Regions from separate parts of the Homo sapiens genome. Here region 1 is linked to region 2. The links come from fine-mapping of genetic effects on gene expression. Tissue or cell type: subcutaneous fat. Region 2 holds a variant in brackets; the other region holds the start of a gene. All regions are shown on one strand. Distances are between the middles of the regions.

The links. PIP is the estimated chance that this variant, and not a neighbour inherited with it, causes the effect.
Region 1: CDYL2 starts here. The variant in region 2 is fine-mapped to the expression of CDYL2 in subcutaneous fat (GTEx, PIP above 0.99). The same link has a PIP of 0.9 or more in left ventricle, tibial nerve and visceral fat.

What each region holds. Positions count from the first base shown.
Region 1 is chr16:80,803,243-80,805,925 of GRCh38, forward strand. It overlaps CDYL2 (chromodomain Y like 2), which reads right to left and starts at 1,356. Exons shown (of 7, transcript NM_152342.4): 1 at 908-1,356. The coding sequence starts at 931. RefSeq lists silencers at 137-286, 567-636, 1,247-1,556, 1,577-1,636.
Region 2 is chr16:80,899,384-80,902,066 of GRCh38, forward strand. No RefSeq gene overlaps it. Among named protein-coding and RNA genes, the nearest start is that of ARLNC1, 8.1 kb to the left of the region's middle. The variant A/C (reference allele first, on the strand shown) is at 1,215.

The sequences.
Region 1 (2,683 bases), 96 kb before region 2:
AGACTAATGTCTTCCTTCGCCACTTTTGGGAAGACATGAGAGTATCCAACGCTGGCCACTACTCATTAGGACCTGGAGCCAGGTATCCACTGAGGGTGACGAGAGTACTGGGCGCTGGGCTGGCATCTGTGTCCTATGTCCCCAACACCTCAGACTTCCACGTTCTCCTCCCACCCAGGGCCCTCCGCAGCGCCCCCTTTCGCCCCCAGGGAGCACGACACCCGCAAGGGCCACCCCCACGCCCGAGCCCGGAGGGCGTCCGAGCTGGTGCGGGGGCAGCAGGTGGGGGGTGAGGGAGGTGGCCCGGGGACCCCGGGGAGCGGTTTGGCGGTTGTCCCCCCGAACCCCCACCCAGCCTCCCCCTTCGCAGCCCCCCGGGACCCCGCCTCGCCCCGGCCAGGCTCCGCTCCGATCGCCCGCCCCCCTCCTCCCCCGCGCCCCCGGCCCAGCCGGGCCGCGCAACCCCCGCCCCACACCCCCGCCGGCCGCGGCGCGCCCCCCCGCATTCCCAGCACGTCCGGCGCCGACTTTTACCTGTACTTTCTGTACTCGAGGCGGCTCGTCGGGCGAGAAACACCTCCCCGGGACCGCTACCTCCCCCGCCCCGGCTCCGCCCGGCTTCCTCCTTCCCCTCCAAGGCCGCAAAGTAGATGGAGTAAGAGAGTGTGTGTGCGAGAGAAAGAGAAAGAGGGAGCGGGCGCGGGCGCCGCGGGAGGCGGCGGGCGGCGGGCGGCGGGCGGGAGGCGCGCCCGGCCCCCGCCACCCTCCGGCCGCCGCCGCCGCCGCCGCGGGCTCGGCAACTCCGGATTGCGCCCGGCCCCGGCCCCGGCCCGGTCCCCGCCGCCCGCCGCCGCCGCCCGCCGCCGCCCGCTGACTGGGGCCGGCCCGCGCCCCCGCGTCCCCGTACCTCGTAAAGGTCCCCAGAAGCCATGCCAGGCTGCGGAACTTGGCTCGCCGGTGTGCGCGTCTGCTCGCTCGCGCCCTCCGTGCGTGTGCGCGCGGGGTCCGGTGTGCGCGTGTGTGTGCGCGCGTGTGTGTGCGAGTGTGTGTGGTGTGTTGAGTAAACTGTGTTTTTGCAGAATGACAGGCTTGGGGGCTGCCTATGCGCAGAATCAGAGCGGGCGGCGGCGGGGCTGGCGTAACCGGCAGCAGCGGCGGCGGCGGCGGCGGCGGCACGAGCGCGGGCAGCAGCGACGGCCGCGCAGCGCGCCCGGGAGGCACGGACGCGGCCCGAGCGCCGCGGCCCCCGCGACCCGGCGACCCGGCGGCGGTGGCTGCAGCCGGCAACGGCTCGCCCCGGCGCCGCCTGCAGGAAGCCGCCCGGCGCCCGCCGCCGGCCCGGACGCTGCTGCCACTGGGCGAGTCCCCGCCCCCCGGGAGCCCGGCCCGGCCCCCGGGGCGGGGAGGCGGGGGCTGCTGCCCGGCCGCGCCCCGGGGGACCGGTCCCAGAGTCGACTAGCGCTCGGGCCCGCCCCGCCACCCCGGGCCGGCTTCGGGAGCAGCTGGCGGGGCCCCCGGGGGGCGGCGGGCCAGGTGCCCGCCGGGTGCGCCCGATCTGGGGCCGCGAAGGGGCGGCCGGGGAGCCAGGTAGAGGGCTGCGGCTGCAGACCTCAGGGAAGGGGCCCCAGCCGAGCCCCGCCGGCCCGGGGTCCCCACCTACCTCCTCCACCCTCGAGGGGAGTGGACGCCGCCTGGGAGACCTGGCCCCTCGGGGCTGCGCGGCCCCTCCCTCCAGGCTGGGTTGTAAGATGTGGAGGCCACAGGGAGGAAGGATGAAATGGCCCATCCAGAGGCACCATGGGGATCCAGGACAGGCGTGGCCACCCCATAAACCCTGGAAAGTCTTTAGAGCCAGGGGTGGCCTTCCCTCAACAACCCCTCTCCCCGAATTTATTCACTCATCCCTTACTCAAACATTTACCAAAGTCAACCCAAGTGCACAGTGTCCCTGGACAGGCAAAACTGGGACCCTGCCCAGAGACAGTTTGAATCCGCAAGTGAGGAGTGTAATGGAGCACTCAGTTGTTCTAAAAGGTCATCCTGCGTGTGACAGGCTGCGGAGCTGGAGGAGCTAGAGAAGCTCTCCAAAACCCAAATCCGTTCCTAAGCCATCTCTCATGGATAAATGGTCACCCCTCTGCTTAAAGGGTTCTCCTTATAAATATTTATGTATATAGTTACTTCAGAACCTGCAAGGTCAGACTTCTGAAATTGGAGGGAAGATCTTCATCCCCACCCATGAAATGCCTGCCTGGCTCCAGATGTGATGTATCATTAACTCACATGCTCCCTGGATCATTTTCTACTTGGGAGGCTGTGGGCAGGTCACCGAACCCTGATGGGAGATGGTGATAGTCACCTAAGTGATTTAAATAGAATTAAGGAGAGGATCTACGTATACATGAAGTGACCTGTCCATCCCAGCAGAACTCAATAAAGGTGATTTGTATCTGAGTCTCAACCTGGACTGCCCTCATGGAGAGTGAGATGGCAGAGGGGCTCGATAAATTGTTTAATCCTGAGGTTGTCAAACTTTGAAAAGTCACCAAATTTTTTAATCCAAAAAAAAAAAAAAAAAAAAAAAACTCCATGGAACCTGAAGCATGTCTGGCTCATTCCAGGACACATGGATTTGCATTTGCTGTTCCCCCTGCCTAGAATGTCCTTCCACATTGAATCCATC
Region 2 (2,683 bases):
ATCAACCTGTCATCTAGGTTTTAAGCCCCACGCGCATTAAGTATTTGTCCTAATGCTCTCCCTCCCCTTTGCCCCCACCCTCCAACAGGCCCCTGTGTGTGATGTTCCCCTGCCTGTGTCCATGACACTGCCACCTCATTTTTAAAGGCTGCCAATGAAGAGATTTTGTACCAAGAAATGGAAAAACCAGCAAGTCAATGCCTTCCCCATTTTCCTCATGTCTGGTGCAATTGCGGCATTTGCCCATATGACAGGCACTTGGTGCACCTTAAGGCCATGTTTAATGCCAACATCAACCAATTCCCCGCTGCCTGATGTTGACATTTTGTATGCCTGATGTGTATGGCCTTTCTTCCTGAAACTTTCCTGAATTTCCAAGGCTGGGCCGGGTGTTCCTCTTCTGTGCTCCTATCTTTTCCTCCTACCTCAGTGGGTTACACTGTTTACTTATTCCTACCCTGCACTAGACTCCAAGGATACTCCAGGCTGGCAGGGCCGTTGTCTCTTTTTCAGCACTGTGCCCTTAGCACACAGTAGATTTCAATATTCTTAGAATGAATGAATGACAGTGAGAAAGAGGATGAGTCAGAGGTTTTGGAGAATTTTAGATGGCTGCACGCACTGAGTGGTGTGTCTAAGGGGGGAATCTTGGCCCTGCTCCCAGCCAGTTCTGGGCAACAAGACAAGTGGTCACTTCCACTCACAGACAAGCAAAAGTGGGCTCTGGAATTTCTGAAATGGGGTGCCCATGTTAATGGATCAAACTAATCAATGTGCAAAAGAAAAATGAACTTACAGACATTTCCAGAGTCTGTATCTACAAAGCTAAGGATGCAATGTAGTAATACAAATCCCAGCTGTTAGTGTATGGTTTGGACCAAGAAACTCTGCACACACAACTTGGCCAGAGCAGGGAGAGAAGCAGAGCAGGGAGACCAGACTGGACCCACTGCAGGCGGGCGGGAGGCCCATGTGGATTTAAGCCCGGTGCCAACATTCGTGGCTATGACTGGCTGCCGTCCAGCTCTGGGCCTCCATCTGATAGGATGGAGTTCTCAGCGGTGATGTGGCTGGAGGCTGGCTGCAGGCACGGCTGCCTCAAAGGCTCCTGGGAAGCACTAGTCTCCCAGCGGCAGTGGGAGGGGTTGGAGAGGCCAGTAAATAGGAGGAAGTTTAGACAGCATCATTCCCTTGGGCACTGGCCGCTTCTAGGT[A/C]ACAAGTAAAAACTCCTAGCAGAACAGAAACTTGGCTGGGAGAGAACAAAATGTTTTTGAAGCTGCTGAGTGGACCTTTTATCTTTGAGTGCAGCCATTGCCTTCCTGTAGTCTCCGAGTGGCCACGGGCAATTTCTGTGCTGTCTTCGGAGCAACATTGTCGAGGCCGGCCACTGGACGGAACTGGAAGGAGTGTCATTCCGGGACTTCTGACAGGACAGCCTGTTTGGGACAATGTGTCAATCAACAACTGCTTGCTGAGAGCCTCGTTGCCATGTAGGCAACTGTCTAGAAAGAGGCTTCATAACAGAGTCCAGGTTCCTCCTCAGATTAGGGACTCATTTCCTCTCCCCTCTACAAGCCCAGTGTTGTCTACCTTGAAAAGACTCACAAATGGAACCGCCCTGACCCACATCTGCACCCCAGACCTAGTTGCAAAGGTCTGCAGGGATGTCTCGGACTGGACCTGGTCACATTTCTCCCATCTTGCTCCTCTGAGGAAAGAGTGCCTTTGCCCCTGTTTTAGTCAAGTTTCTTACCTACAAGTGAAAAAAAAAAAAAAAAAACCCTAATGTGAACCACCTAGGGGGGGTAAGAGGACTTTACTGTCTCATGGTGGCGGAACATAAGAAAAAGCAACCTTTTAGGGGGTATACTGTGTTGAACAGTATCCCCTGTGAGATTCTTGTCTGCCTGGAATTGGTGAATGTGACCTTATTTGGAAATAAGATCTTTGCAAATGTAACTACATTAAGATGAGGTCATACTGGATTCTGGTGGGCCCTAATCCAATGACTGGTATCCTTGGAAGGAAAGGGGTATTGGGACAAAGACACACAGGGAAGAAGGACATGTGATGGCAGAGGGAGGGATTGGAGTGACGCCTCTACAAGTCGAGGAGTGACAAGGACTGCCAGCCACCACCAGACACTGGGAGAGGCATGGAACAGGTTCCTTCCCAGAGACTTTGGAGAGAACACAGACCTGCTGATACCTTGATTTCCGACTTCTGGCCACCAGAACTGTGAAAGAACACATGCCTGCCATCTCAAGCCACCCAGTTTGGGGTTATTTGTTATGGCAGCCCCAGGACACTGATATAGTGGATGCCGTGATGGTCCCCATTTTAAAGATGAGAAAACTAAGGCACTGAAGTGATTAGTTATTTGCCCAAGGTCAGGCAACTAATAAGTGGTAGAGCTAGGATTGTTTAAAACAGCTTTATTGAGATATAATCCACATACCATACAATTCACTCATTTGAAATGCACAATTCGGCAGGGCATGGTGGCTCACGCCTGTAATCCCAGCACTTTGGGAGGCACAGGTGGGAGGATCATTTGAGGTTGGGAGTTCAAGACCAGTCTGGCCAACATGGTGAAACCACATCTCTACTAAAAATACAAAAATTAGCCATGTGTGGTGGTGGGCACCTGTAATCCCAGCTGCTCGGAAGGCTGAGGCAGGAC